Linked DNA regions of Homo sapiens. The protein of the gene in region 1 interacts with the protein of each later gene in a pairwise test. Each region holds a gene or a part of one and is shown in the gene's direction. Other genes may lie near its edges. The genes, in order: SLC71A2, LEPROTL1, ZDHHC24 and TMEM229B.

Region 1 (7,711 bases):
CTGTGTCCTATAGCCCCTATATGAATTGATTTCATTTTAATGTGTTGGAATTTCCTTACAGCTTGGTTTCAGTGACACTCATGATTTCAGGTTCTTAGATGCTACTAGTAATCACAGGGAAGATTGTCCAGCTGATAACTTTTTTCTTTTTTGTTTTCTGTGTTTTTTTTTTTGAGATAGGGTCTTGCTGTCATCCAGGCTGCAATGGCCAGTCATGGCTCACTGCAGCCTTAAATTCTTGGGCTCAAGCAGTCCTCTCACCTCAGCCTCCTGAGTAGCTGGGACAACAGATATGTGCCACCATGCCTGGCTTTTTTTTTTTTTTTTTTTTAATTTATTTTTTGTAGAGATGAAGTCTTCCTGTTTCCCAAGCTGGTCTCAAACTCCTGGGCTCAAATGATCCTCCTGTCTCAGCCTCCCAGTGCTGGGATTATAGGTTAGAGCCATGATGCTTGGCCTGACAACTTTTTTCTACCTTATTTGGCAAAGAGATATATTGACCAGAAAAAGATACTGGCAGAGAGATGTCATAATCTGAAAAATAAAAGAGAATCAAGTATTTACTCCAAGAGATCATTTCCTTCTAGAAAAGGGAGGTGTGTCGCCGGGCACGGTGGCTCACACCTGTAATCCCAGCACTTTGGGAGGCTGACGTGGGCGGATCACAAGGTCAAGAGATCAAGACCATCCTGGCCAACATGGTGAAATCCTGTCTCTATAAAAATATAAAAGTTAGCTGGGCATGGTGGCAGGCGCCTGTAGTCCCAGCTACTCAGGAGGCTGAGGCAGGAGAATCGCTTGAACCTGGGAGGCGGAGGTTGCAGTGAGCTGAGATCGTGCCACTGCACTCCAGCCTGGCGACAGACTGCACTCCAGCCTGGCGACAGAGCGAGACTCCATTTCCAAAAAAAAAAAAAGGAGGTGTATGTTAGCTGTTTGCGTTGCTGTAAAGGAATACCTGAGAATACCTGAGACTGGGGAATTTATCAAGAAAAGTGGTTCTTTAGGCTGTACAGGAAGCTTAGCACCAGCATCTGTTTCTGGTGAGGGCCTCAGAAAGCTTGCAATCAGGACAGAAGGCGAAGGGGAAGCAGCTTATCACGTGTTGGGGAGGGAGCAAGAGAGAGAGGGGAGGAGGTGCCAGGCTCCTTTTAGCAATGAGATCTTGGCCGCGTGCGGTGGATCACTTAAGGTCAGCAGTTGGAGACCAGCGTGGCCAACATAGTGAAACCCCATCTCTACTAAAAATACAAAAATTAGCCGGGTGTGATGGTGCATACCTGTAGTCCTAGCTACCTGGGAGGCTGAGACAGGAGAATTGTTTGAAACTGGGAGGCGCCACTGCACTCCACCCTGGGTGACAGAGTGAGACTCTGTCTCAAAAACAAACAATAAACAAAACCAATCAGATCTTGTGGTAACTAATGGAGCGAGGACTCACTCATTACTGTGAGAAGGACACCAAACAATTGAGAAGAGATCAGCCCCCATGACCCAAACAGCTGCCACTAGACCCCACCTCCAACACTGGGGGTCACATTTCAACATGAGATTTGGAGGAGACAGATATCCAAATGCTATCTGCCTTAAAAACAAATTGGATAGTTTGGTTTTCTATTCTGTGGAAGAATTTGTGTAAGATTGGTAATACAGTTCTAGAACTTTATAGTTCTTGGCCTTTTGGAGATTAATTCTAGAACAGCGTAGGTTTTCTGTTTGATTTTTAGTTCTGTCAGTTTCAGTAAGTTGTGTTTTGTTGGGAATTTGCCCATTTTATCTAAAATGTCAAATTAGTTGGCATAAAGCTGTGAATAATGACCTCGTAGGCTCTTTTCACCTTCTGTAGGGATTCTTGGTGTGCATTTCCTTTTTTTTTTTTTTGAGACGGAGTTTCACTGTTGTTGCCCAGGCTGGAGTGCAATGGTGTGATCTTGGCTCACTACAGCCTCTGCCTGCCGGGTTCAAGCGATTCTCCTGCCTCAGCCTCCCATGTAGCTGGGATTACAGGCTTGTGCCACCATGCCCGGATAATTTTGTATTTTTAGTAGAGATGGGGTTGCACCATGTTGGCCAGGCTGGTCTTGAACTCCTGACCTCAGGCGATCCACCTGCCTTGGCCTCCCAAAGTGCTGGAATTACAGGCGTGAGCCACTGCGCCTGGCCCTTTTTTTTTTTTTTTTTAAGAGGTGAGGCCTCACTCTGTCATCCAGGCTGGAGTGCGGTGGCGCACAATCATAGCTTGCTGTAACCTTAAACTCCTGGGTTCAAATGATCCTCCTGCCTCAGCCTCCCTAGTAGCAAGGACTATAGGCACGTGGCACTATGCCTGGCTAGTTTTTAAATTTTTTTGTAGAGATTGGGTCTCACTGTGTTGTCCAGGCTTGTCTTGAACTCCTGGCCTCAAGTAATCCTCCAGCCTCAGCCTCTCAGAGTGCTGGGATTATAGGCATGAGCCACCATGCCTGGCTGGTACTCTGCATTGATAACTTGTGCTTTGTCTTTCAAAAAATATTTAATTTTGTAGGATCTTCTGGATAAATATTCACAAATATTGCACGTGTTGATAATTTTATATCTTATTTTGATGTTAAATGAACTAGAATATCCAGGAAAGTATTCAATGGTAATGGTAAAAGTGCATACAACCTCCTCTACGTAACAGGAATACATTAATTTTTTCTTACTGTTAGGTATCCTTTTGGCTGTATACACGTAAACATGCTTTATTACCCTATGGAAGCATTTTTGAAATTTCTCAGTTTCAGCTGGACGCGGTGGCTTACGCCTATAATCCCAGCACTTTTGGAGGCTGAGGCAGGCGGATCACGAGGTCAGGAGATTGAGACCATCCTGGCTGACGCGGTGAAACCCTGTCTCTACTAAAAATACAAAAAATTAGCCAGGCGTGGTGGTGGGCGCCTGTAGTCCCAGCTACTTGGGAGGCTGAGGCAGGAGAATGGCGTGAATCTGGGAGGTGGACCACGCTTGCAGTGAGCAGAGATCGTGCCACTGCACTCCAGCCTGGGCGACAGAGCGAGACTCTTTCTCAAAAAAAAAAAAGAAATTTCTCAGTTTCTTACATGTGTTCTCTCTTCCCCTTTTCCTCTTCCCTTCCTCCAGTTCAGCATGTCATAGAACTTTCACAAGTGGTTATGAAATCTTAGATATGCTATGGAGAAAGAGGTTATGGCATAGCAAGAGCATTGTTCTGTGAGAATTGGAGAGAAATCTATTCTTAATGTGTATTTATTTATTTATTTTTGAGACAAGAGTCTTACTGTTTCATCCAGGCTGGAGTGCAGTGGTGTGATTATGGCTCAGTGCACCCGGGAACTCCAGGGCTCAAGTGATCTTCCTGCCTCAGCCTCCTGGTAGCTGGGACTACACGTACGTCCCATCATGCCTGGCTAATTTTTAAATTTTTATTTGTAGAGATGTGCTCTTGCTTTGTTGTCCAGGCTGGTCTCGAACTCCTGGCTTCAAAGAATCCTCCTGCCTTGGCCTCCCAAAGCATTGGGATTGCAGGTGTGAGCCACTGTGCCCAGCATTAGTCTGACTTTTTTATAGTTAGCTTTGTATTTGCTTGTCTTTTTTAAACAACCTTATTCAGTTTAATTGACATAAAATAAACTGTGTGTTTGGAGTGCACAGTTTTGTGTTGTGACATATCTATACACCTGTGAAACCATTATCATAATCAAGATAGTAAACATATTCATCACCCTCAAATGTTTCTTTTTACCTCCCTCTACACCTCCATTTCCAGGCGATAATTTATCTACTCTGTCACTATATATTGGCTTGAATTTTCTTCCCCCTTTTTTTTTTTTTGAGATGGAGTTTCACTCTTGTTGCCCAGGCTGGAGTGCAATGGCGTGATAACGGCTCACCACAATCTCCGCCTCCTGGGTTCAAGTGATTCTCCTGCCTCAGCCTCCCAAGTAGTTGGGATTACAGGCATGCGCCACCATGCCAGGCTAATTTTGTATTTTTAGTAGAGACGGGGTTTCTCCATGTTGGTCAGGCTGGTCTCAAACTCCCGACCTCAGACCATCCGCCCGCCTCGGCCTCCCAAAGTGCTGGGATTACAGGCGTGAGCTACTGCCCCCAGCTGGTTTGAATTTTCTAGCTTTTTTTTTTTTTTGTTATTTTATAAATACAGCATATTCTCCTCTTTGGCTTTTAAAAAGTTCAGCATAAATTATTTTGAGATTTATCAGTGTTATGTAAATCGGTAGTTCATTCTTTTTAATTACTGAGTAGTAGTCCATTTGTGGATGAACCACGATTTGTACATTCCCTTGTTGATGGACTTTCGGCTTCTCACCAGTTTTTGGCTATTACAAATAAAGCTGCTGTGAACATCTGTGTGCCAATCTTTGTACAGAATACACTTTTTTAAAAGTAAATAGGAGTGAAATGGCTGGGTCATATGGTAGATGTATTTAACTTTTTAAGAAACTGTTGGCTGGGCATGGTGGCTCATGCGTGTAATCCCAGCACTTTGGGAGGCCGAGGCAGGAGGATTGCCTGAGCCCAGGGATTTGAGACCAGCCTGGGCAACATGGTAAGACTCCGTCTTTAAAAAAATAATAAAATAAAATAAATTGCCAAACTAATTATTTTAAAAGTAATTGTACAGTTGTACATTGCAGCTAGCACTGTATGATAATTCTAGTTCATCCATATCCTTACCAACACCTGGCCAATTTTAGCCCTTCCAATTGGTCTTTAGTGATGTCTCATTGTTCTTTTAATTTGTGCTTCCCTATGGCTAGTGGCATTCAGTATCTTTCCATAAGTTTTTTTTTTTTTCCTCCTCCGGCAGAGTCTCACTTTGGTTGCCCAGGCTGGAGTGCGGTGGCGTGATCTTGGCTCATTGCAGCCTTGACCTCCTGGGCGCAGGTAATTCTCCCACCTCAGCCTCTCGAGTAACTGGGACTACAGGCATATGCCACCATACCCAGCTAATTTTTTAATTTTTTATAGAGATGGGGTCTTACTATGTTGCCCAGACTGGTCTTGAACTCCTGGATTCAAGTCGTCCACCTGCCTCAGCCTCGCAAAGTGCTGGGATTACAGGTGTGAGCCATGTGCCCAACTTCCCTAAACTTATATGTCTTCTGTATATCCCTTTTGGCAAAGTGTCTGTTCTTGTCTTTTGCCTATTTTTTGTTGTTGTTGTTGGTTGGTTGTTTTCTTGTAATTGAGTTTTGAGAATTCGTTACATATTTGGGATGCAAGTCCCTCGTCAAATGATTTGCAAATACATTCTCTCTAGGCCGTGGTCCATCTTTTCATTCTCTCAGCAGTGTCTTGAAGAACAGGAATTTTAAATTTTGATGAAATTTATCAATTTGCTCTTTTATAGATCAGGGTTTTGGTTTCATATTTAAGAAATTGTTGCCTAATCCCAAATCATAGGAATTTCCTTCTATTTTTTCTTTTTTTTTTAGACGGAGTCTCTTTCTTTGTCGCCCAGGCTGGAGTGTAGTGGCACAATCTCTGCCCACTGCAATCTCCAGCTCACTGCAATCTCTGCCTCCCGGGTTCCAGCGATTCTCCTGCCTCAGCCTCCCGAGTAGCTGGGACTACAGGCATCCGCCACCACGCCTGGCTAATTTTTTGTATTTTTAGTAGAGTTGCAGTTTTAGTAGAGGCGGGGTTTCACCGCGCTAGCCAGGATGGTCTCAATCTCCTGACCTCGTGATCCACCTGCCTCGGCCTCCCAAAGTCTGGGATTACAGGCGTGAGTCATTGTGCTTGGCCTTCCTTCTATGTTTATGGAAGCTTTATAGTTTTAGATTTTACAATTGGGTTTGTGTTTAATTTTGATTACATTTTTATATGGTGCAAAATAAGGATGGAAATTATTTGTTTATGAACAGTTGTTCATTTGCTGAAAAATATGTTTTTATTCATTGAATAGCTTTTACATCTTTTTTTTTTTTTTTTTTTGAGATGGCGTCTTGTCCCATCGCCCATGCTAGAGTGCAGTGGCGCAATCTCGGCTCACTGCAACCTCCACTTCCCAGGTTCAAGCGATTCTCCTGCCTCAGCCTCCTGAGTAGCTGGGATTACAGGCGCACGCCACCACACCTGGCTAATTTTTGTATTTTTAATAGAGACAGGGTTTTACCATGTTGGCCAGGCTGGTCTCGAACTCCTGACCTCGTTATCCACCCATCTTGGCCTCCCAGAGTGCTGGGATTATGGGTGTGAGCCACCATGCCTGGTCTACTTTTGCATCTTTGTCAAAAATCAATTGTCCATATATTAGTCAGTCTCTGAACTCTTTATTCTGTTCCTTTGATCTATTTGTCTTTACATCAGTACCCTGCAGTCTTGATTACTGGAGGTTCATAAGACTTGAAAACTAACAGTCCCCCAATCTTGTTATTTTTTAAAGTCGTTTTAGTGATTCTGGGTCTTTGCATTTTAGAATTAGCCTGGCAATTTCCACAAGAAAGCCTTTTGGGATTGTTATTGGTATTCTTTTGCCGTGAAGATCTGTTTGGAAAGAATTGATCAAGTCTTCTGATGCATGAATGTAGTATCTCTCCATTTATTTTAGATCTGTAATTTCTTTCAGCTGAGTTTTGTAGTTTTCAGTTGACATGTCTTTCCCATCTTTTGTCAGATTATTCCGTTTCATATTTCTTGACGTTATTGTAAATGGTATCATTACATAAATGTAATTTTTTAAAATTTAAATTCACAATTGTTTGTTGCCAGCATATAGAAATACGGTTGATTTTTAAAAAATTGTTTAATTGTGGTAAAATACACATAGCAAAGAAGTTACCATCTTAACCATTCTTAAGTGTAGACTTCAGTAGTGTAAGTATATTCACATTGTTCTGCAGCCAATTTCCAGAACTACTTCTTCTTTCAAAACAAATTCTATACCCATGAAACAACAACTCCATTTTTTGCCATCCTCCCATTCCCTGACAACCACCATTCTCCTTTGTTTCTATGTGTTTGACTTACTTTAGATACCTCATATATATGGAATCATACCATATTCATCCTTATCTTTTTGTGATTGACTTATTTCATCTTGCATAATGTCCTCAAGGTTTGTCCATGTGTGCCGTGTGTCAAATTTTCCTTTTTTTTTTTTTTTTTGGACACATGGTCTCTCTCTCTGTTGCTCAGGCTGGAGTGCAGTGGCATGATCACGGCTCAGTGGAGCCTCGACCTCCCCAGGCTCAGGCGATCCTCCCACCTCAGCCTCCCAAGTAGCTGAGAGTACAGGCGCGCACGAGCAGGCCCAGCTAATTTTTGTATTTTTTGTAGAGTTGCAGTTTTGTCATGTTACCCAGGGTGGTCTCAAACTCCTGGGCTCAAGTGATACACCCGCCTTGGCCTCCCAAAGTGCGGGGATTACAGGCATGAGCCTCCATTCCTGGCCTCTTTGCCCATTTTTAAATTGGGTCATTTGCGTTTTGTTTTATTGTTGAGTTGTAAAATTCTTTATACATATATTCTGGATATTAACTCCCTGCTATGGTGCGAATGTCTCACTTTGAAACTTAATTGCCATTGTAATAGTATTAAGAGGTGGGACTGTCAGGGCTATTGAAGAAAATGGTTAAAAAAAAAATAGTGGGAACTTTAAGAAGTGATTAGGCTGTGAGGGCCCTGCCCTTAATTAATGGATTAATGCAGTGAGTTTTGTTATCCTGGTAGTAGGTTCCTTATAAAA
Region 2 (7,711 bases), on another chromosome or scaffold:
TTTAGTATTTAATGGAGTAGAAGTATTATCTCAAGGTATCTTGATTCCCCCAAACAAATGTTATTCCAGTATTCATATTCATAGCACTTACAATAAGACAATCTTGGTTTATGTTTTTAAAATTGTTTTTTGATACCTGAGCCTTATCTCATTTTAGTCCCTTGGTTTTTTTTTTTTTTTAAGGAATCATTTTTCATTAACTTTGTAAGAGTGTAATCAAAGAATTTAGGCCTTCTTTTTTGATAAAAACTTGAATGACTGTTCTCTGTCACAGAACAGCCACCTTCAGAGGCCCTCATGGTCCTAAGGTGGCTTGCCTCTTGCGGAGATTACCGTGAACATGCTTTTTGAGATTTTTCTGCCTGGTTTAAATTTTTTTTGTTGTTTCCTCCCTCCTGTCAAAGGGCAATTCTTGCTTGTATGCAACTCTTTCTCCTAATTCCCATTTGTTTCAGTGTGGGAAGATAAACTTAGAAAATTTTGTGTCACAAGGTATATAGGTAATAGTGATTACTTTTGATAAGAGAAAGTTCCTTTTCACTTAATTTTTGTTCTGGGTATATGAATTACCTATTGAAAAATATATATAAGTGAGCATAGATGATTCTTTAAAATAAAAATGTGTTTTACTCTGAATTCCCATCTAACAATTGTGTCACGAAAATGAGTTAGTATAAATAAGAACTTAAGGGTCTGTTTATAGAGAATGTTGGCTTTAGTATATGGGCTTTGTAACATCTATTTTGTCTCTTTTTAGTGGCCTTTGTTTTCTCCAGGATTCTAAGTTGCGTATAAATGGCTTCTGAATGAATGAGGTGTTACTAGGTAGTATTTATAGTAATGGACTTAGCTGTCTTAACAGTACCTTTAGTGTTCAGAAAATTATCTGCATTTAAGATCTAGTCCAACTGTCATTTTAGAGAAGGAAGAACTGAGACTCATAAATTACTTGGACAACTAGTTAGTAACTATTAGGGCCTTGGACCCTCCAGAGTCTCAGTTCCATGCTGCTTCCACTCTGCTACATTCATTCCACAAATATTTGTTGAGTGTTAAGAGCCAGGCACGATCATCACAACAGAAAAACTTGCTCCCTCCTTTCGTGAAATGGACAGTTGAGAAGGAAAGACAAAATACAAACCAGTAGGAAATCGCAGCTGATAATTGAGCAAAGGAGAGGCATTCAGTGAACAGAGGACCTCAGCATACACGGGTCTCTGCCAGGAATACTCATCCCAAATACCCACATGATTTCCTCCCTCCCCTCATACAGATCTTTGCTCAGGTGGTGCTTCATCAGAGATGCCTTCCCTGGCCACTGTATCTAGACTAGCACTCCCATCCCTTACTCTACCTGACGTTTGTCATCACTTGACATTTATTCACTTGCTTATTAAAAATCATTTTCTTCTCCCACTAGAACGTGAGAGCAAAAGCTTTGATTGTTGTCATTGCTCTGTCTCCAGTAGCAAGAACAGTATCTGACACACGTTAGGTGCTCCATAGATGTTTGTTAGAGGAATGAATAAATAAATATAACAGGGAATTGGTCTAATCAGGAGGTTTGGAAAAACTTCACTGAGGCCAGGTGCAGTGGCTCACGCCTATAATCCCAGCACTTTGGGAGGCCAAGGTGGGCAGATCGTGAGGTCAAGAGATGGAGACCATCCTGGCCAATGTGGTGAAACCCCGTCTCTACTAAAAATACAAAAAAAAAAAAAATTAGCTAGGCATGGTGGTGCACAGCTGTAGTCCCAGCTACTCAGAAAGGCTGAGGCAGGAGGATGGCTTGAACCTGGGAGGCGGAGGTTGCAGTGAGTCAAGATCGCGCCACTGCACTCCATCCTGGCGACAGCGCAAGACTCCATTTAAAAAAAAAAAAAAAAAAAAAAAAAACCAGCAAAAAAACACTTCACTGGTTGAGCTGAGATCTGAAGGAAAAGCAGGAGTTAAGTTGGAGGAAAGTAGAGAGGAGTGGGAAAGGACCATGCCTCATTCACTGTTGTATCCCTAGTGCTTGTCACATATTTAGTGCTCAGTGAATATTTCTTGAATGAAAAAATGTCTGAGGCAGAAGGGACAAAGTGTGCACAGGCCACGTGAGTGAGCAAGTCTGCTGATTTCCAGGAAAGGAAAGAGGGCCAGTATAACTGAAGTGAGGGTTCAGGGACACTGTAGTAGCCTGGTGTGACACGTCACAGGAGAGGTGGGCAGGGCCCGGTCATGAGAACCAATTTGGAACTGAAGAAAACAAATGGTAAATTCAGTGTTTTCCTTACAGTTTATATTGCATTCCCCTGTAAACTTGAAGTGCCTCGTTTGCTGTAAAGTAAAAATGCAATTCTTTTCCTGTAGCTGGAAATAGAATGGTATTCAGGACTAAGTGATGTGTTCGGGGTTGCCATGACCTGCATCAGCGATCTAACCAAAAACCAAATCTGCCAAGCCACTATGTCATGGGGTGTCCTTGATTATGACTGTTTTAGTTGTGCAGAGTATATCAGTAGTACTTGGCAAAGTTTAACTTGTTTCCTGTTCATTTTGGTTTCTCTATGTTAGCCTTTGTTTTGGTAACTTTTAGACCTTCTACAAATCTTTCGAATTTTAACTTTTGAATTTTAATAAAATGACCTAACAACAACAAAACTAGTTATTTTCTTAGCCACTGTAACTGTAGAAATACAGGTTATATAGAACTCAAAATAAATTTATCATTTACTTATTTATTTATTTTTTTTGAGATGGAGTCTTGCTCTGTCGCACAGGCTGGAATGCAAAGGCGCAGTCTAGGCTCACTGCAACCTACGCCTCCCGGGTTCAAGCAATTCTCCTGCCTCAGCCTCCCAAGTAGCTGGGACTACAGGCATGTGCCACCACACCCAGCTAATTTTTTGTATTCTTAGTAGAGACAAGGTTTCACCATACTGACCAGGCTGGTCTCAAACCCCCAACCTCATGATCCGCCCGCCTTGGCCTCCCAAAGTGCTGGGATTACAGGCGTGAGCCACTGCACTCGGCTATCATTTATTTCTTTGCTTTAGTCTAGGTCATTGGTTAACTATGCCTATTCAAGAAAGTTGTTTCTATTCACTAACGTGAGAGCACCTTAAAATGTACTGCTGTGTGTGTGTGTGTGTGTCTGTGTGTGCGCGCGTAGCTTTAGAAACTATATTTCACCTGTAGAATGCATCTATTGCTTATAATAACATGTTAAAGTAGTGATACCTCAGAAGGATTATAACCCATTGTCCTACAGATTTTCTAATGTAGATTAGGGAAGGAAACCCAGCTCTACTTTTGCAAACTATTTAAAGATTTGCAACAAAATTAATTGATTAAAATCATTAACTACAGATATTCTCGGGCATTTTTTCTGGTCAGTTTTATGCACATTGAGAGTGTATGTGCCAGAAACAGGAGCTGATTAGAAGAGGTTTTCCTATAGGATGAGGTTTCTAAAGTCCAGTAAACTTGAGCATGTGGAGTTTCTCCACATACTGCTTTTCAAAACTGTAGTGATCTGTGAAGTAAATATAATTCTAATGCCCAGAAGAGCATTGAGCCTGTGGACTTTGACTCTTTAGAAAGGGAACCAGCGTCTGGGGAATATGGTGGGGTACTAGCAGTAGGTTAGAGCTTTAAAAATCGGTGTCACTGGCTGGATGTGGTGGCTCACGCCTGTAATCCCAGCACTTTGGGAGGCCAAGGCAGGTGGATCACCTGAGGTCGGGAGTTCGAGACCAGCCTGACCAACATGGAGAAACTCCATCTCTACTGAAAATAGAAAATTAACAGGATGTGGTAGTGCATTCCTGTAATCCCAGCTTACTCAGGAGGCTGAGGCAGGAGAATCACTTGAACCTGGGAGGTGGAGGTTGTGGTGAGCCGAGATCAAGCCATTGGACTCCAGCCTGGGCAACAAGAGTGAAACTCCATCTCACAAAAAAAAAAAAAAAAAAAAAAAAGGCCAGTGTCACTTCATTTTGCCTTGAAGATACCACAGAAGACTTATTCTAAGACTAGATAACTTACACTTCTGATGGCAACTTGCTATTAATACGTTTTAGGGATTTTTGCTTCTGAGGTTACAGATAATGTTCAGACTGCTGATATTAATAAAAATAATATTTAATTTATATTCCTGTTGCACTTTTTATTTGCTTTGCAGCTTTGATTAGTTTGTCCTTTGGAGGAGCAATCGGACTGATGTTTTTGATGCTTGGATGTGCCCTTCCAATATACAAGTATGTAAAATGTTTGTCTTTCTGAATATTTAAGGGTAAAATTTTTCTACTTTTAAAGCTTAAAAAAATGTTTTTTTACTACTGTAAAAGTAATGCAGAGAAATGTTCACTTACCAAACACATACCTTTGTAAAAATCACCACTTAAAGTTTGTTTCTAAAGATTTTAGGACACCAAGATGCAAATAATATTTTTGGCTGTTACCTGCTCTTTCACTACTGCTGAGTCTGCAGTGGCAAGATAGCTACACAGTACCTCAGCCCTCCTGCTCAGTTTTTAACATCTATTGATAATACTAATTACAAGAAAATTTAAAATGTCTTTTTGCAAAAAAATACCATAAGCAGTCAAAACACAATTAAAAAAAAAGAGAGAGATGTAAACAATTACTTTCCGGCCGGGTGCGGTGGCTCACACCTGTAATCCCAGCATTTTGGGAGACCAAGGCGGGAGGATTGCCTGAGGTCAGGAGTTCAAGACCAGCCTGGCTAACATGGTGAAACCCCATCTCTACTAAAAATACAAAAAAATAGCCAGGCGTGGTGACACATGCCTGTAGTCCCAGGTACTCGGGAGGCTGAGGCAGGAGAATCGCCTGAACCCAGGAGATGGAGGTTGCGGTGAGCCAAGATCACGCCACTGCACTCCAGCCTGGGTGATAGAGCAAGACTCTGTTTCCAAAAAAAAAAAAAAAATTTCTTTCCTTAGGATAGAAAGAACTTCTCAAAGTTAACATTTTAACATTTAGATAAATTAGAAAAAGATGGACAACTCAATAGAAAAATAAATACAAAAAGAGAACTACAAATTGCTAATAAGCACATAAAAATATCCCCAGCCTCACTCAAAACTAAACAAAATCTATTGACAAAGACAAGAGACAGGGCAAGCAGGGACTCTTTTGTGCTGTGGGGGGAGTACACATAGATAGTTTTCTTGGAGATAAGTTTGCTTGTAGCTCTCAAAGTATATATTCTTTGAGTTAGCCCTTTCACTTGTTAGACTTTCTGATACAAACCCACTTGCAGATGTTTACAAAGATATATTTAGTGGGGGAGAGTATGGATGTTCAAGCAGCCTTGTTTATTTTTTGGTTTTTGTTTTTGTTTTGTTGTTTTATGCGTTATTTATAAGAGCCAAAAAAAATTCTGAAAACATCCTAAATGTCCTTCAAAAGAAAAATGGTTAAATTATAGTAAATCTTTTAATGGAAATACTAGGCAGTCTTAAAAAGAATGAGGAAGAGCTGTAAGTGCTAACATGTAAATATGTTCAAGACATATTGTTAGAAAACTGCAGGGACCCATTCATATTTTAAAGTTTATGTGGAAATGTGGAAGGGTCCCTGAGAAGCTCAATAGGAAAGTGGGCAAGAGGAGATTTGGAACTTTTAGTCTTTACTTTTTGTGCTTTTGTACTGTTTGAATTATTTTTCTTAAGCATATATTCAATTTTTAATTTTTTTTCTTAAAATATTTAGGAAATGGTCAGGCGCAGTGGCTCATGCCTGTAATCCTAGCACTTTGGGAGGCCAAGGTGGGTGGATCACCTGAGGTCAGGAGTTTAAGACCAGCTTAGCCAACATGGTGAAACTCCATCTCCACTAAAAATACAAAAATTAGCCGGGCATGGTGGTGCACGCCTGTAATCCCAGCTAGTCACGGGGGCTGAGGCAGGAGAGTCACTTGAACCCAGGAGGCAGAAGTTGCAGTGAGCCGAGATCATGCCACTGCACTCCAGCCTGGGCAGCAGAGCGAGACTCTGTCTCAAAAAAAAAAAAAAAAAATTTAGGAAACATAAGTAGCTGCTTATCATTAGCCTCTGTACAATCAGATCTCCACCATGATACCTATTTTATTCTATGGTAGTTTTAAGGGCATCTATTTCTTTTTAACTTTTTATTTTGAAACAATTTTAGATTCTGAAGAAGTTGTGAAAATCATACACAGAGGTCCCCTGTACCCTCCACACAGCCTGCCAGAGTCATAAGATCTTACATAACCATAGTTATCAAAACCAGGAAATGACTGTGGTACAATACAGTTAACTAGATGTAGAGTAAAAGCCATCTATTTTTATTGTGATAAATTCTATATTCTGACTGAAAGTGTTCTTACTTTTAGCTTCTTTTCTGTATTTTGATTTCTGTAATTTGGGAGTTCCTCGTGTTGTAAGGGAAGTTTAGGGTTGTTTCAGCTTTATGCTAAGGTTGGGTATCATCCATTAGAAGTCAAGCGATTGAATCTTGATTTTTTAAAAAGACCATATTTTGTGTGTAGGAAAATGACATAGCAAAAATTACATTAACTTATTTTTCTTTTTCTAGCAAATACTGGCCCCTCTTTGTTCTATTTTTTTACATCCTTTCACCTATTCCATACTGCATAGCAAGAAGATTAGTGGATGATACAGATGCTATGAGTAACGCTTGTAAGGAACTTGCCATCTTTCTTACAACGGGCATTGTCGTGTCAGCTTTTGGACTCCCTATTGTATTTGCCAGAGCACATCTGGTAAGTGAATATATTCTTCCATTAATGATTTTATATTGAACATGTGTTACATTTTTCTCAAGCAAAGTTTTTGTTAATGACATGAAAAGAGGTGAAAGACATAAGAGCCTAGAAGATAGAGATTAAAATCTCACTTTATTGTTTGTTCTTGTTAACTAATAAAAGTGATATTGGAGAACGTGGCTTGGATCTGCAGCAGCTGTTGGCTTGCTAATACTTTTTTTTTTCTTTTTTTTTTTTTTTTGAGATGGAGTCTTGCTCTGTCGCCCAGCCTGGAGTGCAGTGGCGTGATCTCACCTCACTGCAAGCTCTGCCTCCCGGGTTCACGCCATTCTCCTGCCTCAGCCTCCCGAGTAGCTGGGACTACAGGTGCCCGCCACCACGCCCAGCTGATATTTTTTGTGTTTTTAGTGGAGACGAGGTTTCACCGTGTTAGCCAGAATGGTCTCGACCTCCTGACCTCGTGATCCGTCCGCCTCGGCCTCCCAAAGTGCTGGGATTACAGGCATGAGCCACCGCACCCGTCTGGCTTGCTAATACTTAACTGTCAGAGTTGAGCATATCAACTCCCCCAGTGCTGAACAACCCAGGCCTATCCTGTAAAACCTAAAATATGGAAGACCTGAGAAGGTGCATGTGCTCTGCAGGCAGAAAAGCACTGAAGAGGGGAAGGGGCTGGCTACGGGTACTCAGTTCTTCCTCCCAAACTCACTGATCCACGCGCCTTCATCTCTGGGGAGGTAGAGAAGACAGCCATATGGAGAAGGCAATTGTTTTCCCACCCCTTCAAAAGAATGTACATGGGTGTGTTTCCATCTGTGATATGCTAAAATTTAATCTACTCTAGATAGATTTTTATATTAAGGAAGAGTAAGCACATTCCTTTATAAACAGAAACTTGTAGAATTTTATGCTGCTTCTTCATAGCCCAGAAGTCAAGCTTGTTTTTGAATG
Region 3 (7,736 bases), on another chromosome or scaffold:
AGGTGGCCCTGGGAGCCATTTGGAATTCTTCCCCTCAGCCACCTTTCCTTCCTCAGACCAGCTTGCCAGATGCCCTGGGAGCTGGACATGGAAGATGATGCGTTAAATACTTGAGGGGCTGTCATTGCTAAGGAAAGGGAGTGAGCTTCCCATCACTGGAGGTATGTAAGTAGACACTGAGTACAACTTGATGGGAACCTAAGCACTGAATAGGGCAGTTAGATTTCCCACAGTTCCCTCCAACCCTGGAGTCTAAGATGCTTTGAGTTTGGAAAGGGCAGGGGGATAGGCAGGTCTGGGTGGTGCCAAACATGACTCTTTTTTTTTTTTTTTTTTTTTTTGGAGACAGAGTTTCGCGCTTGTTGCCCAGACTGGAGTGCAATGGTGCGATCTCTACTCACTGCAACCTCTGCCTCCCTGGTTCAAGCGATTCTCCTGCCTCAGCCTCCCAAGTAGCTGGGATTACAGGCATGCGTCGCCACGCCCTGCTAATTTTGTATTTTTAGTAGAGATGGGGTTTCTCCATATTGGTCAGGCTGATCTTGAATTTACAACCTCAGGTGATCCGCCCCCCTCCGTCTCCCAAAGTGCTGGGATTACAGGCATGAGCCACCACTCCCAGCCCAAACAAGACTCTTAATGAGATGTGGTTCCTGCCCTAAGGGAGCTCACAGTCCATCCAAGAGTCATTTTGGTCTGAGAAGCGCTGTAAGAGGTTGCCGAGGAATTTATGGGAGGGACGCTGCGGATCAGGGTCCCCTCTTGGGGAAGGCGAGTATTTGATCAGAGCTGTGATGGGCAGGAATTATTCAGGAAGGGAAGGGCAGGCAAGGGCATTTCAGGCAGGGGCTGCCATGCAGGCAAGTGCTCGGTGGCTGTGAGAAACACTTGCTACATTTGTCAGACTACAAGGATCTGGGCACTGCTGGAATGGAGCTGGGATTGTTGGGGTATAAGTGGTGAGAGGCAGGCCGGAGGGGCAGCAGGAGCCAGGTCATGTGTGATCTTGGGTGCTAAGCTGGGGAGTTAAAATTTGATCCGGAGGGCAACAGAGAGTCAGGGAAGCCTCAGGCAGGAGGGAGGTGGGCAGAACTGTCCATGCTGGTTGCAGAGTGGAGATGAATGGCTTGGCGTGGCAGAAGGCAGAAGTGAGGACGCAGTCACTGGGATCAGGGCAAGAGAGGAAGGGTGTCAGTGTGGGGGACAAGGCAGGATTGGATGGATGAGACAGAAATGTTGGAATGTAAGCTCCCATGGCAGGGGCTTTATTTTGTCTGCTGCCGAATTCCAGCACCTGAAACAGCGCTGGCACATGGTAAGACATCAGGTGGGAGGAGGCAGCGTGCTGCTCCAAGACTGTGTGAAGGAAGCCCTTGGATGGAGGAGTCACTGGGGAGAAAGGGAGCATAGAGCAACAGGGAGGGGTCAGGGCTAAAGCTGAGCACAAGGATGTTTATTACCACCTTGCAATAAACAACGCTGGACAAGAAAGAAATGAGCCAAATGTCCAACTACAAGGGATGCTGATTGATTTTCAGATCCTCTATGCTGTGCCAGCCATTGAATGAGTAGATGATGAGATGGTGACTGCAAGTTGGGATGAACAGATGTTCCTGATAATTTGTTAGGTGACAAAGGCAAGTTACAGACTGGCACGTGTCATATGGGGGGCACGCAGACCTGGATCTCGGAGAGGCCCGGGTGGGTGGGGGTAGGGATAGGAGATGTTGCAGAACAGGTGGCAGCTGGAGCCAAGGACAGGGATGACACCACCGGGAAATTGCCAAACCTGGGACTGCAGCCGTGCTTGGAGACAGGTGCAGGGGGAGCCTAAGGGGAGGCCTGTCACCCGGGGCACCCCAGCCGAGTCAGCGGAGCCTCTCGGCCCTTGGGGTCATCTCCTGTCATCTAACCCAGCAGAAGTACTCTGATTCTAAATTCTGGGACTCTCAGGTCATTTAAATTCCACTGAGTACCCCAGTACCCTGCCCTCTCCTGGAGTCATACAGTGTTGGCACACGCTGAGCAGGGTCCAATGGCCTCATAGTGCCCTCCTGGTTACCCCTGGCCTGCCACTCTCCAAAGTATTCTCCCTCTGGCCTGGATCATTTTCCCTTTGGGAACCCAGGTGTCCTGCCCCCTCTACTTGGGAAAGTCTGGGAGTGAAAATAGCTCAGGGAGGGAGGGGCCCTGAGTGCCCAACGGGCTGGGCCTGGGTAGCAGCTGCCCCTGTGCCCCTCTTTGGCGCCCCCGAGGTGCTGCCTCAGCACTAAGTGTCCATCTGGCTGGAGAGTCAGGTTACAGCGTAAGGGGACCCAGGTCTCCCCTCCTCCCCGACCTATGGCCTTTTCAGCAGACTCAGGGCCCCATGCCTGGGGTATCTTGGGAAAGAATGGGGGTAGGGAAAAGGGTAAAGATCCTCAGGTTGCGGGGGTCCTGATGTCTGACAGTCTGTGATGTGGGGCCTGTCTGTGCTCTTTCTGGGCTTCAGTTTCTTCAATTGTTAAATGAGATACAGCGACTATGGACCCCACCCTGGAGACGAGGTGGGGTGGGGTCTGAGAGGACCCTTCTCACTACCCCCACACTCCCAAGTCCACTAGTTGCCTGACTGCAAGCCTTCAGGGTGGGGTCTGGGAATATTTAACTAGAAGAAGATTCTTCTTTCTGAACCCCCCCTAACTTGGATCTCCTGGGGTTTGCCCAGCCTGTTTTCAGCAGCAGAAGTGGGGCAGTGGGCCCAGGGGAATGAACCCTGGTGGGGGTGGGGAGCCCAGAAACTCTCTTGTCATTTTAAACCCCTCTTGAGGGCTCCCAGCCCTCTCCTCCAGCCCTGGGGACAGCAGGCAGCTGATGGGCAGAGCCTGGGCTGGGGATTAGCACTCTAGGTTAAAGACAAGCTCTGCCCCTGCACTGCTGAGATGCCCAGGACAAACAGCCCGGCCTCTCAGGCCTCGGTTTTGCTGTCAGGAAATGGGCGAGCACTCACTTTCCGCTGCTGCTTCTCCCAGGCCGGGTCCAGCAGCAGGTCGCGGTCCCAGTCCTCCTCCTGTTCCATGTACTCGCCGCCCCCGCCGCCGCCCGCAAAGCGCCCCTCCCCGGCCCCCAGACCCTCGGGCTGCATAACCATCATCATCTCGATCGGGCTCCTGGCTTCGCTCCGCTCGGCACGCTCTCGGACACCCGGGCCCCATTAAGTAGGGCCCAGCCCAGCCCCAGATCGAATTCGCACTAAATATGGGGGAGGAGGGAGGGGCCGGATGGGGGTGAAGGAGCTCGGGTTGGACCTGGCAAGGGGTTGTCCTGAAGCCGGGAACTGCGGGACTCGGGGGCGCCGGGGTGGATCTCGCGGCGGAGATCCTGGGTTTGCATTCCTGCTCCGCTGCTGGGGCGCTGTGTGACCTTGAGAAATCCACGGGACCTCTCTGAGTCTGTTTACTCCTCTCCACAATAGAAAGGCCGATAATAATAGTGGCCGCGGGCCGCTCTAGAGGCTGCCCTCTGGAGCTCCTCGTGAGCCTCTTCCAGCACCTCGCTGGTGGGACACAGAGCCCTATCCCCATTTCACAGTCAGGAACACAGAGGCGCCGAGCTGTTTTGCATGTTTTCTGGGGTGATGGAGACACCCGGGCATGGGGAACGGCTCTGAGCCAGCTGGATGGGCTGCGGCAGGGCTATTAATATCGGGGCGGCTGTGGGGAGTAGGGGAGAATGTGCTGAGCCGGGAAACCCCGACACCACCCCGGCTGCAACTCAATCCCCCGGGCACTCCTGGCCCCCGCGCCAGCGGGCGGGGCTCCGACGGGATGGGAGGAGCCTCCAGGGTGGGCGGGTCAATCACTCCGCGGCGTTATCCGGGCTCCAGCGCCGCGGGATTCCGAGCGCCTCCACTGCTGGTCCGTTGGCCAGATCAACTCGCCGCGTGGGCCGGCCGTTCCCTGAGAGTCTGAGCGCTCGCCGCACCCCCTTCCGAGCTTCTATTGGCCGTAGCAGACGTCCGTCTGCCGCTATCTCCGCCCCAATACGGAAGCGGCCTAGTCCTCCGGCTCCGACAGCTGGGTGTCCAGGCCATGGGGCAGCCCTGGGCGGCTGGGAGCACGGACGGGGCGCCCGCGCAGCTGCCTCTCGTGCTCACCGCGCTGTGGGCCGCGGCCGTGGGCCTGGAGCTGGCTTACGTGCTGGTGCTCGGTCCCGGGCCGCCGCCGCTGGGACCCCTGGCCCGGGCCTTGCAGCTGGCGCTGGCCGCCTTCCAGCTGCTCAACCTGCTGGGCAACGTGGGGCTCTTCCTGCGCTCGGATCCCAGCATCCGTGGCGTGATGCTGGCCGGCCGCGGTCTGGGCCAGGGCTGGGCGTGAGTGGGGTGCGGGATCGGGCGGGGAGAAGTGGGAGCCTTGGACAGGGGGGAGGGGCCCCAAGACCTGAGATGTTAGAACCGGGTTACATTAGGATCCAGGTTGTTAGAATCAGACATTTTTTTAGAACCTGGGATGGAAGAGCTAGAATTGAGTGTTATTTATTTACTCGCAAATACTTATTGGGAGCCTACTAGGTGCAAGGTTTTGTTACAGGGACGAAGGGTACAATAGAACAAATTCCTGATTTGAGGGGGGTGCAGATGAGAAACTAGAGGAATAATAAGCAAATCATATAGAATGCTAGAAGGTGATAGTAGTTTGGAAACAAGAAGTAGAGCAGGGTAAAGGGGTTGCAAGTTTCAATATTAAATAGGTGGTTAGGCCGGGTGCGTTGGCTCACATCTGTAATCCCAGCACTTTGGGAGGCCGAGGCCGGCGGATCACTTAAGGTCAGAAGTTTACCAGCCTAGCCAACGTGGTGAAACCCCGTCTCTACTAAAAATATAAAAAAATTAGTCGGGCATGGCGGCACGTGCCTGTAATCTCAGCTACTGGGGAGGCTGAGGCAAGAGAATTGTTTGAACCTGGGAGGCGGAGGTTGCAGTGAGCCGAGATCGAGCCACTGCACTCCAGCCTGGGTGACAGAGCAAGACTCCCTCCGTCTCAAATAAATAAATACATAAATAAACAGGTGGTAAATTCTCATCACAAAAATATGAGTGTTTGAGGTAATGGCTATCCTAATTAGCTTGATTTATTCCAAGCTGTACTGATAAATCATAACATCACTTGGTATCCCATAAGTATATACAACTGGAATTTGTCAATTTATAATTAGAAAAAAAAATTACACCAGGTACAGGCTCTACACACACATTTTATGCCAGGCAGAGGCTTTTGCTGAGACTGAGGCTGTAGTGTGCTATGATCACACCTGTGAACAACCACTACACTCCAGCCTGGGTAATGTAGCGAGACTCTGTCCCTAAAAATTTTTTTTAATTAATTTTTAAAATAATATACATAAATGTGTGGTCAAGGTAGACCTCATAGAGAAGGAGGCATTTGAGCAAAAAACTTGGAGGGCGTGGGGGGCGGTTAGCCATGTGGGAATCTGAGGGAAAGGTGTTCCAGGCAGAGGTAACAAGTGGTGCAAAGGCTCTGAGGCAGTTGTGTACCCAGCATGTATGTTCCCAGAACAGCAAGAAGGCCAGTGTGGCTGGAGTGCAGTAAGAGAGGGGAAGAGATGTCACAGATAGAAGGATGTTGTAGGACACTGAAGGCTTTGCTTTTTACTAGAAATAAATTGGAGAACCACAGGAGGGTTTTAAGCAGAGGAGGGTCAGTTTGGTTGCTGGGGTGAGACCGTACGAGGTGGGGCAAAGGTGGAATCGGAGACCAGTCAAGAGGCTATTGCAGTAATCCAGAGAGTTCCTAGTGACCTGGACAAAGGGGTGACCGTGGAGGAAGGGAGGGATTTGCTGCTGGATGTCAGTGGCTTGAGAGAGGTCTCAGGACTGGGGATGTTAGGGCTGGAAGAGACCTCAGACCTGTAGTGCTAGAACTAGAAGGGCCTGGGACATCTTGTTTAGCCTGCATTTACTTGTAAAGAAATTGAGGCTTAGCCAGGGCAAATGGCTGTTGCCACTTCCGCAGGATGGGCTCTGGGGCAGCCCTGTGCACAATATGGGGCATCTGAGCTGCTGGGGGAACTGACGCTGTGGTTCCTTCCTGCAGTTACTGCTACCAATGCCAAAGCCAGGTGCCGCCACGCAGCGGACACTGCTCTGCCTGCCGCGTCTGCATCCTGCGTCGGGACCACCACTGCCGCCTGCTGGGCCGCTGCGTGGGCTTCGGCAACTACCGGCCCTTCCTGTGCCTGCTGCTTCATGCCGCCGGCGTCCTGCTCCACGTCTCTGTGCTGCTGGGCCCTGCACTGTCGGCCCTGCTGCGAGCCCACACGCCCCTCCACATGGCTGCCCTCCTCCTGCTTCCCTGGCTCATGTTGCTCACAGGTGGGGAGCCTGGGAGGCCTCTGCACAGAGGCAGGGGCCCTGGTATTGGGCTGGGGAGTACAGCCCATTCTGGTGGGAGACGGGCTTTCTGGCCTGGGGGACCCAGCCCCAGTGTCAGTGATGGCCAGTAAGGGCAGCTTGGTATTCACCCGGGGGTGCAGTATGGAAACTGGTGTGTTGAGACAAGTGCAGCGTTCTGGCTGGAGAATTGGGAGATTCCTGGAGTTGTTGAGAGAGGAGAAAGACTCGTGGGAGTCTCTGCATGGCGGGATGTGGAAGTGCATTCTAGGAGCATTTCTAAGTGAGAGAAGCAATAGGAACAAAGGCTTGGAGAGTGGGCAGGGAATTGTGAGAATTAAGGCCAGATTGGTAGGGGAGGCCTGGCTGGTGGGGTCCTGAGAACTGGTGTGAGGAGATGGCTCCTATTTGACTGGACAGTGGGGAGCCAGTGAAAGTGACAGGCAGGAGAAGGCCCAGTTATGGGAAGCTGGGGAGGGCAGACTTGGATCAGCAGGCTGCCTGAGATGCCATGTTCTAGACGACACATATGTTCCTCTTCCCCCATCTACAGATAGAAGCCTCGCTGGTCCTTTTTACTCTTTGTTCTCTACCCCCAGAATGCTTTGGCCTTTCTCGCCCCCATTCCTTCCTCCTGACCTTTCCATGGTTCCCTCTGTCACTTTGATCTGTGGTTGAGGAACCTCCCCGGCTACTCCGGGTAGTCACTGTGCCTCCTCATCCTATCCAAGCCCAGCTCTGTGCATGGACCCCACCTACAGCCCAGGGGAGGCCTCGGGAAGCGGCCCACTGGGGTTATCAGAATCTTCATCTGCCCACACCAGCTTCCCAATGGGTCCTCCTCTGCCTCCCTCCAGGAGTCCCGGCCCTTCAGCCGCACTGCCCTACCACCTTGTGGTCAACACTCACTCCCCTCAGTCACGGAAGACTCTGGCTCCAGTCACAGACTCTCTCTTCGCCCTGGGCCCTGTGGAAATCAAGGGTGTCTGGAAGTTTGCATGAACAGCCCCCTCAATGCCTGGATGGCTTAGCTCTTGGCCTCCTCCTTCATTTTTCCTTCCTTTCCCTCCTCCCATGTCCACACCCCAGTCCTGGTCAGAATCCAAAAATGAGTCACCCTCACAAACCACCCATCTTCCTCTTTCTGCTGCCCACCTCCTCTTCTCTCCGTCTTTTACTCCTCCACGCCCTGGCACCTGCTCCATGAGCCTGCAGGCTCGTGGCCCTCACCGCCCGTCTGTACCTTTCCACCTTCGCCACCGACGTCCAGCTCAGAGCTCATCCTTCTCACCATTCTCCTGCCAGCATCGCAAACTTCCTCCCTCATCTTCCTTCCACAGTGCTTTCC
Region 4 (7,711 bases), on another chromosome or scaffold:
CTTTTGTCACATATCAGCAGCAGCATCTCCTCCTCAGCGAGACAAGCTCGAGGTAGGGTGAGAGGCTCCTAACTGCACAGCCCTGCCTGTCCTCACAGGCCTTTCTTTCCAGCCTCAGCCCCTGGCTTTTCCTTGATGATGCCTTAAAAAATGACAATTGGCTGCTTTCCCAACCCCCAGAGGCCTGTCTGGCCTGAAGGCTGTTATGTCTGTGCAGGGCCCGTAGCCTGGTGGGATCAGAGGCCTGCAGGAAGGAAGCTCCCCAGAAGGCATGGCAGGCAGAGCTGGGCTTTTGCAATCTTGAACAGACAAGCTTTTTTTGGAGTTCCTAGGCTGGTCCATGGGAACCCAGAGCTTCAGATTCCATGCAGGAATTTGCAGGGAGTAGAAAAGGGGTAATCAGGTCTTTTTCCACTTTAGGTAGATCTTGACTCTCCTAGTTGACAGTTTATAATTCAGGGCCAGAATCTGTTTTCCACTCAGCCTGGGCTTACAAAGTCAGTTTGACTGGAGAGTTTCTCAGGAAGTGTGTTCTTGAGTTGATTTGTAGCCAGGGTGGTGTGAGCAAGCCTAGACTGTAGGAGGGGAGTTGGGGGTAAAGAGATGGCCATGGGTGCCTCTGTGGGAACGTCGTTCCTCAGATGGGAGGCACATCTCCCCAGAGCAATTTATGCCATCAGCCTTAAGGCTGTTGTACCGTTTGGTTCAGTGATTCTCCTTCTGGAATTATCCATTAAGATATATTATTAGGAAATAGTACCAGAGAAGAAAAGGGCTGAATTCTTCCATTACAGGCATTAAAGGTAATTCTCGTTATATCATCTGTAGTAGTAGAAATGGGAAACAACTGTTCCCTTTGGACATCTAGGTTAAGTAAATTACAGTTTTCCGCTTGCTGGAATATTACACAGCCATTATAATAATGAGCACAGAGGCTATATAACAACTTGGAAAAACAGTTATGACAAGTAAAAATGGCAGGTTGCAGAATAAGTATATTATGGTGACTTGTAAAATACACACATAGGAAAATATTGCAAAGGAGAAATGGTAATCGCTGTTAGTTCAGAATTATGAGTGCTTTTTCTTTTTTTTTCTTTATTAGAAATGAGGTCTCACTATGTTGCCCAGGCTGGTCTCAAACTCCTGGGCTCAAGCAGTCCTCCCGCCTCAGCCTCCCAAAATGCTGGGATTACAGGTGTGAGCCCCCATGCCCGGCCTATGAATGCTTCTTCTATGATGCATGGATTGGCTTTTTAAAAAATAAAATTGAATCCGGATGACTACACAACATACCATTAATAGTGACTTTCTCTAAGATGTGTGATTACAGGGAACTTTTGCTTTCTATGTCATTCTGTAATGTTTAAATTTCAGCTGTGAGCACATGTTGCTTTTATAATTAGAAAAAAAATTAAATGCTAGAATTAAATGTTTTAGAAGGCTATATTTCTCAAGAAAGGAGGGAAGAGAGACCGAGGCAGCTAGCTGTTTATACCTGCCCTCATCAGTGTTTAAGGGCCTGGGCCTGTTTGGGCCCACTCATCCATCCATTCATTCCACAAGTATTACTAGGTATTATTGCCAGGCACCACTCTAGGCACTGACTAAACAGCAGTGAACAAGACAGTGCCCCTGCTCTCATGAAGTTTTCATTCTAGTTGAGGAGAGACAGACCATAAATAAGTAGCAACATATCAGAAAGTGAAAGTGCTATGTAGAAAATAAAATGGAATGATGTGAGTGACAGAGAGGCTATTTTGGACTGGGGATCAAAAGTCCCTGAGATATGACAGCTCAGCTGAGATCTGAATGGTAACAGCAAGGCAGCCACATACAGGTCTGGGATGCCAGCCTGCCAGTCCCCCGTGCAGGGCATCCTTCGCTTTCTGAGCCCCAGGGACCTCTGTGCCAGAACTGACTCCATCCCCCAAGCCCACTCACCCTGCCCTGCCTCCTGCTGCGGTTTGCTTGGGATCTGAGGCCCCCTGAAATCCTCTGTGTTCGGACCGCTCCTCCTGACATGCTGGCTGTTGCTCCTCTGGGCAGCTGGCCCCTGCTCTTGGCTGGTGTCTCCATGGCAGGGCTGGGCCGGGCCATCTGAGACTCCCAGGAGCACTGGTGTGGGCTGGCAGTCAGGGGGCCTCTGGGTTGTGTGTGTCCTGGTGAGGGGCCTTTGAATGGCGCATGCCTTGGGGCCTGAGGGTTGGTTGCTGTCATGGTCCTGTGACTGTCAGCTTTGACCCTGGAGGGCCTCTGTGTGGATCCCGAGGAACAGGCTGGGAGCCTTTAGGAACTCTGACACCCAGTTGGGAAGTTTGTTAATGAACCACCTAGAAGTTCACAACCTTCTCCTTGCTTCCTGTTGTCTCTCCACATACCATCCCAGCCTTCCAGAAGCAGGAACTCAGAAAATGGTAGTGCCCTCAGAGGAGCCTGCAGTCAGCCTCGGGGGCAGTGCAGTGTGCTGATTAGGAGCAAAGACTCTGGAACCAGATTTGTGGGGTTTGAATCCCAGCCTTGCCTTTTATAGTTATTAGAATGTAGGCTCGGCCAGGTGTGGTGACTCGTGCCTATAATCCCAGCACTTTGGGAGGCCGAGGCAGGCAGATCACTTGAGGTCAGGAGTTCAAGACCAGCCTGGCCAACATGGTGAAACCTCGTCTTTACTAAAAATACAAAAATTAGCTGGGTGTGGTGGCAGGAACCTATAATCCCAGCCTCTTGGGAGGCTGAGGCATGAGAATTGCTTGAACCCGGGCGACAGAGGTTGCAGTGAGCCAAGTTCACACCACTGCACTACAGCCTGGGTGACAAAGTGAGACTCCATCTAAAAAAACAAAAAACAAACAAAAAAAGAACGTAGCCTCTTTCTGCCTCACTTTCCCCATCTGTAAAATGGGCTTGAGAATTTTTTGAGTTAATACATGGAAATACTGAGAAGAGCACCTGGTTATTATTATTACTGTGACTTGGGAGGTGGAGGGAGGACTTCATCAAGGCCTGCAGTATCACTAATCCCAGGGGCTTTCCTTGGGGGGCACCCACAGCAAGAGGGTGGAAGTCTGCAGCATGTGCACCAGCCAGTGGCTACAGGAGTTTCCCTCCACTTGCTTCCCTTCTGGCCCTGGGCAAGCCCTATTTTCCTCCCTGCTAACTTGATGACAACAGGGGAAGTTCAGGGAGGTTTCTGCCCTTTCCTCATTGAAGCCACTTATCTTCAGCACAGAGCCGCCCAAGGGCTCCTGAAGCTGTCCCCCGCTGCGTTGCCTCAGGGGTCTCCTAGAAGGGCTGTGGGTCTCCCCAGAACATGGAACTGTAGTGATGGGGGTGGCTGGGGATGGGGAGTGAAGCTTGGGAAGTGAGTGGAGTGAAAGCGGAAGGCCTTCCCAGCCCGGTTGCATGGGAGGGGAATCCCAATTTTCTGGCCAGATGCTTCTCTGGACAAAAATTCCCAGAGTCACTGTGTTGTGGCACCTTAGCCCCCTGAAACAAGATGGGAGTTTTTGACAAAACCAAGGGCAGTTATTCCATCTGGTTTTGCCTTCAGCCTGTCTTAGACTTTTATGGCAGCCTCTTTACCCCTCTCAACTGCTGGCCATGTCCCCTGCCACCCTGTGGAACAGCAGGCTCGGAGAGCAGCCGGTGAGATGCTCTTAGTGAACAGGGCTCTGAAAGCCAGATCCCCTTCCCCTTCCCCATCACCTGTTCCCTTGAAGGGGTAGTTCCTAGACCTCACAAGTCACCTTGAGTCCTGGCCCTTCGATGGGACTCTGTTTGCCCAGGCCCTTTCATCAGGTATGAGGACTCTCGGATTTGAATGTTGTTCAATGAAACCCTGCTTGTGAAGCTATCCTTTGCTCTCCAAACTCTGTCCTCCTGCATTCAACCTTGCTCACACTCTCCTCCTCTTCAATCCACCCTGAATTTCTGTTCCTGGGCTGTCCTATCTTCATGTCACAGGTCTCAGGACAGTTTTGTTTGTCACCAGGAGAAAGAAGCCAAGGTCCCCTGAGCTGCCGGTTCTCCCTGCAGCAGGCTTTCCCAGGGCTCTGATCCCAGGGCTGAGCAAGGAGCTAGTGGAAGGAGCCTAAGGATATAGGGAGTCGGGTGGGTGGAGGCCGGGGCAGGGAATAGAGGCCTGTCAGGCCCTGTATGGGGTGGGCGAGCCTGTCCTAGCTCAAAGTTAAGCACAGCTCCTGTGCTGATTAGAAATGGGTTTGGAGAGTGGGGTTCTGAAAACGCATCCAAGTCAATGCCCAGCCTCTAATATTATCATCTTCCCCACCACACTGGGAGCTGCCACCTCAGCCAATGACACTGTCTCCTATTCCTTTCTCTTCAACCCCATCTTCTGCCCTGACTCAGGTCTTTCATTTCCCCTGTTGGTCTTGCATGGACCAGCTATGTTCTCCTAGTTCTGCCCTCGGACACTGTCTGACATTGCCGTGGTGTGCTTCCCCTCCATCTACTACCCATGGCTTCCTGCTGCCCAGAAACAGAATCTGGGCTTGGGGCACACCATATTTCTCTCTCCCCCATCTCGCTTTTTTGTTTTTCTTTCTTTCTTTCTTTTTTAAGAGACAGGGTCTTGCTCATTGTCCATGCTGGAGTGCAGTGGCACAATCATAGCTCACTGTAGCCTCAAACTCTTGAACTCAAGGGATCCTCCTGCCTTAGCGTCTGGGACTACAGGCACACCACATCAAACCAGCCTACTTTTTTTTCTTTTTGTAGAGATGGTGGTCTCGCTATGTTGCCCAGGCTGGTCTCGAACTCCTGGCCTCAAGCTATTCTCCCACCTCAGCCTCCAAAAGTGCTGGGACTGCAGGCATGAACTCCATCCTCTCTTCTGTTCAGCAACTTCCTGTCTCTCACCCTAGGTTTCTCTCTCCCTTTGACAGCTACCCCTTTCTTCTTGCTTCTGCTCCAAGGGTTTTGGGATCTGACTCTCCCAAGTTACTTGCTGGGGTTGGGGAAGAGACTGGACCCTCCCGTCTGTTACCAGCTGGGAAACCGGTCTGGGCCATCCCAGAGAGATCAGAGGCAAGAAGAGCAGGGTTTAAAGTCAGCTTCAAGGCTGGGGTCTGGCCTGAGTAATGAGATCCACACAGTCATGTCAGGCTGCTGCAGGAGAGCCCCTGTGAGGTTCCTGTTCCCTCAGCCCGGGCCCTGGGGGTTGGAAGAGCCAGGGGGATACGTGCAGGTCATGGGGCCTGAGTTGGGGTAGGAGGTCCAGAGGTCTCCACATCCCTGTGCTGTGCCATCTGTCTCAGGCCCTCAGACCGCCTCAGTGTGTTCCCCTGGAGCCTGGATCTGTTCTCTCCTGCCCGGGGGTAGGAGGTTAAATGAGGGGGTGAGAGGCTGTGCCCCTTTCATTCCACCATCTTTTCAAGTCTGCCCCTCGGGCTGGCTCTGACACCCTTCCTCTTCCATTCATCCCTCGGTAGCCACAGGGAAGCTGGAGGCTCACCTTCAGTCTCCCGGGATGTCTGTGGGAGTTTTGTTCTCCTGAGGGCCATATGTGGGGTTATTATTGCCACCCGATTTCTTGGCTCGCTAGCTTGGTGCTCAGGGTTGTGATGAAGACCTAACCTGCTTGACAGGAAGGGCTGCCTGGAGGCTGCCGAGAGCAGGGGCACAGTGACCCTGCATCGGGTAAGAGGCGGTGTAAAAGCAGGAGGGGCTGTCCAGAGGTCTGGCTCTGTGCCAGAAATGACAGCTGCCCTTTCTGGAGCCTTAGCTGTATTTTAAGTAGTGTATATGTACGAGTTCATTCGTCCTCACAACAGCCTTCTGTGGTCATTACTTCCGTTATCCTCACTTTACCTACAAGGACCCTGAGGCACAGGGTGGTTGGGCAGCGTCCATTAGGTCTCACAGGTGGAAAGCATCAGCCAGGATTCCAACCCAGGCAGTTAGGATCATCTGGGGTCCCTGAACTTAACCAGCTGGCCATATTGAGACCTGTGAGGCATGGTTTGTTGTTGGATGACACAGGAGGGAAGAGCCTGCAATAATTTTACATGACTTCAGGTTTCTTTGGGTTCATTTGCTTAGCAAATTCATTGAACACCTTCTATACACGAGGTATGAATACGGTGAATACATATTCATTCCACAAGCATTTTTTTTTCCTTTTTTGAGACGGAGTCTCACTCTGTCACCTAGGCTAGAGTGCAGTGGCGCTATCTCGGCTCACGGCAACCTCCGCCTCCCAGGTTCAAGCGATTCTCCTGCCTCAGCCTCCCGAGTAGCTGGGATTACAGGTGCATGCCACCATGCCCGGCTAATTTTTGTATTTTTAGTAGGGATGTGGTTTCACCATGTTGGCCAGGCTGGTCTCGAACTCCTGACCTCAGGTGATCTACCCACCTCGGCCTCCCAAAGTACTGGGATTACAGGCATGAGCTACTGCACCCAGCTTCCACAAGCATTTTTTTTTTTTTTTGAGACAGAGTCTTGCTCTGTAGCCCAGGCTGGAGTGCAGTGGTACGATCTCGCTCACTGCTACCTCCACCTCCTGGGTCCCGGTTCAAGCAATTCTTCTGCCTCAGCCTCCCGAGTAGCTGGGATTACAGGCACACGCCACCACGCCCAGCTAATTTTTGTACTTTTAGTAGAGACAGGGTTTCACCATGTTGGCCAGGCTGGTCTTGAACTCCTGACCTCATGATCCACCCACCTCAGCCTCCCAAAGTGCTGGGTTTACAGGGTGAGCCACCACGTCCAGCCTCCATAAGCATTTTTAAGATGAAATTTTAGTTTTATAAAAGTTATACATGCTTGTTAGGAAAAAAAAGTATGCAGAAAAATATAAAGAAAAAAAGCACATATGATATCACCATCCAGAGATGATTGTTGTTTAATTTTTTTGTATATGTGCACATATGCATGCCTTTGCAGAATCGGAGTTAGGTTGAATATTCAGTTTTGAATCCTGCTTTTTTCTCTTACCACTATCTTAAACAAGCATTCCTCAGGAGGCTGCTGGTGCTGGCGTTCAGATGAATCCAGTGAAGCAGAGTGCTCACTATTACCACAGAGAAGGGAGGGTGCAGAAGTGGGAAGACAACTCTGGAGTCAGGGTGCTTAGGAAAGTCCTCACAGAGGAGGAGCTGGGTCTTAAAGGAGGGTTCACCGGCCCTGGGTGGGGCCCAGGTAGCAAAAACAGCAAGGTAGAGATCTGGAGGACAGGATTGGAGGCAGGGACGAGTTGTGAAGGGCTTTGCCAGCCGTCCCCAGGGGTTTGAGCTTTATTTACTCTGTAGATGTTGAAGATCCACTCATGGGCTTCAAGTGGTGAGAAACATCGGATTTGCATTTTAGAAAGGTTGCGTTTTTTCTACACACTCTTTCATCCTGTGATGAGTGAATTAGAAGGAAGAAGGCAAAGCTGGGAGACCTTTGGAGTCATCCAGGTGAGACATGATGAGGGCGTGAACCAGAGCAGTGGCAGCAATGAGAAGAGTAATGAAGAGGAGGGGATGGATCCCAAAGATATTTAAGAGGTGGTAAGGGTGGGAGTTAGTAGCTGACTTGGTGGCTTTCCCTTGGCCAGTGGGATGATGGTGGGCATGGCTTAGCCAGGGTCTTGAACCACACTTGTACAGCTAGCCTTGCTCAGCTTTGTGCCTCTGCCCTTGCCATGAGAAGAATATGCCCAGGCAAGTCCACTGGGCCCCGGAGGAGGATGAGAGACAGGTGGAGT

The links.
Region 2: the proteins of SLC71A2 (region 1) and LEPROTL1 interact in binary tests that used the Homo sapiens proteins (3 or more experiments, as listed by UniProt).
Region 3: the proteins of SLC71A2 (region 1) and ZDHHC24 interact in binary tests that used the Homo sapiens proteins (3 or more experiments, as listed by UniProt).
Region 4: the proteins of SLC71A2 (region 1) and TMEM229B interact in binary tests that used the Homo sapiens proteins (3 or more experiments, as listed by UniProt).

The regions. Positions count from the first base shown.
Region 1 is NC_000009.12:94,377,223-94,384,933, forward strand, and holds part of SLC71A2 (hippocampus abundant transcript-like protein 1), read left to right. Parts: intron 1-7,711.
Region 2 is NC_000008.11:30,097,730-30,105,440, forward strand, and holds part of LEPROTL1 (leptin receptor overlapping transcript-like 1), read left to right. Parts: intron 1-4,168; coding exon 4,169-4,244; intron 4,245-6,570; coding exon 6,571-6,757; intron 6,758-7,711. UniProt on the Homo sapiens protein: Negatively regulates growth hormone (GH) receptor cell surface expression in liver. May play a role in liver resistance to GH during periods of reduced nutrient availability.
Region 3 is NC_000011.10:66,542,338-66,550,073, reverse strand, and holds the start of ZDHHC24 (probable palmitoyltransferase ZDHHC24), read left to right. Parts: upstream 1-4,025; 5' UTR 4,026-4,070; coding exon 4,071-4,351; intron 4,352-6,092; coding exon 6,093-6,370; intron 6,371-6,941; coding exon of another isoform or gene 6,942-7,066; exon of another isoform or gene 7,067-7,736. Other genes in the region: ACTN3 (alpha-actinin-3), read right to left, coding at 3,288-3,563. UniProt on the Homo sapiens protein: Probable palmitoyltransferase that could catalyze the addition of palmitate onto various protein substrates.
Region 4 is NC_000014.9:67,478,151-67,485,861, reverse strand, and holds part of TMEM229B (transmembrane protein 229B), read left to right. Parts: intron 1-7,711.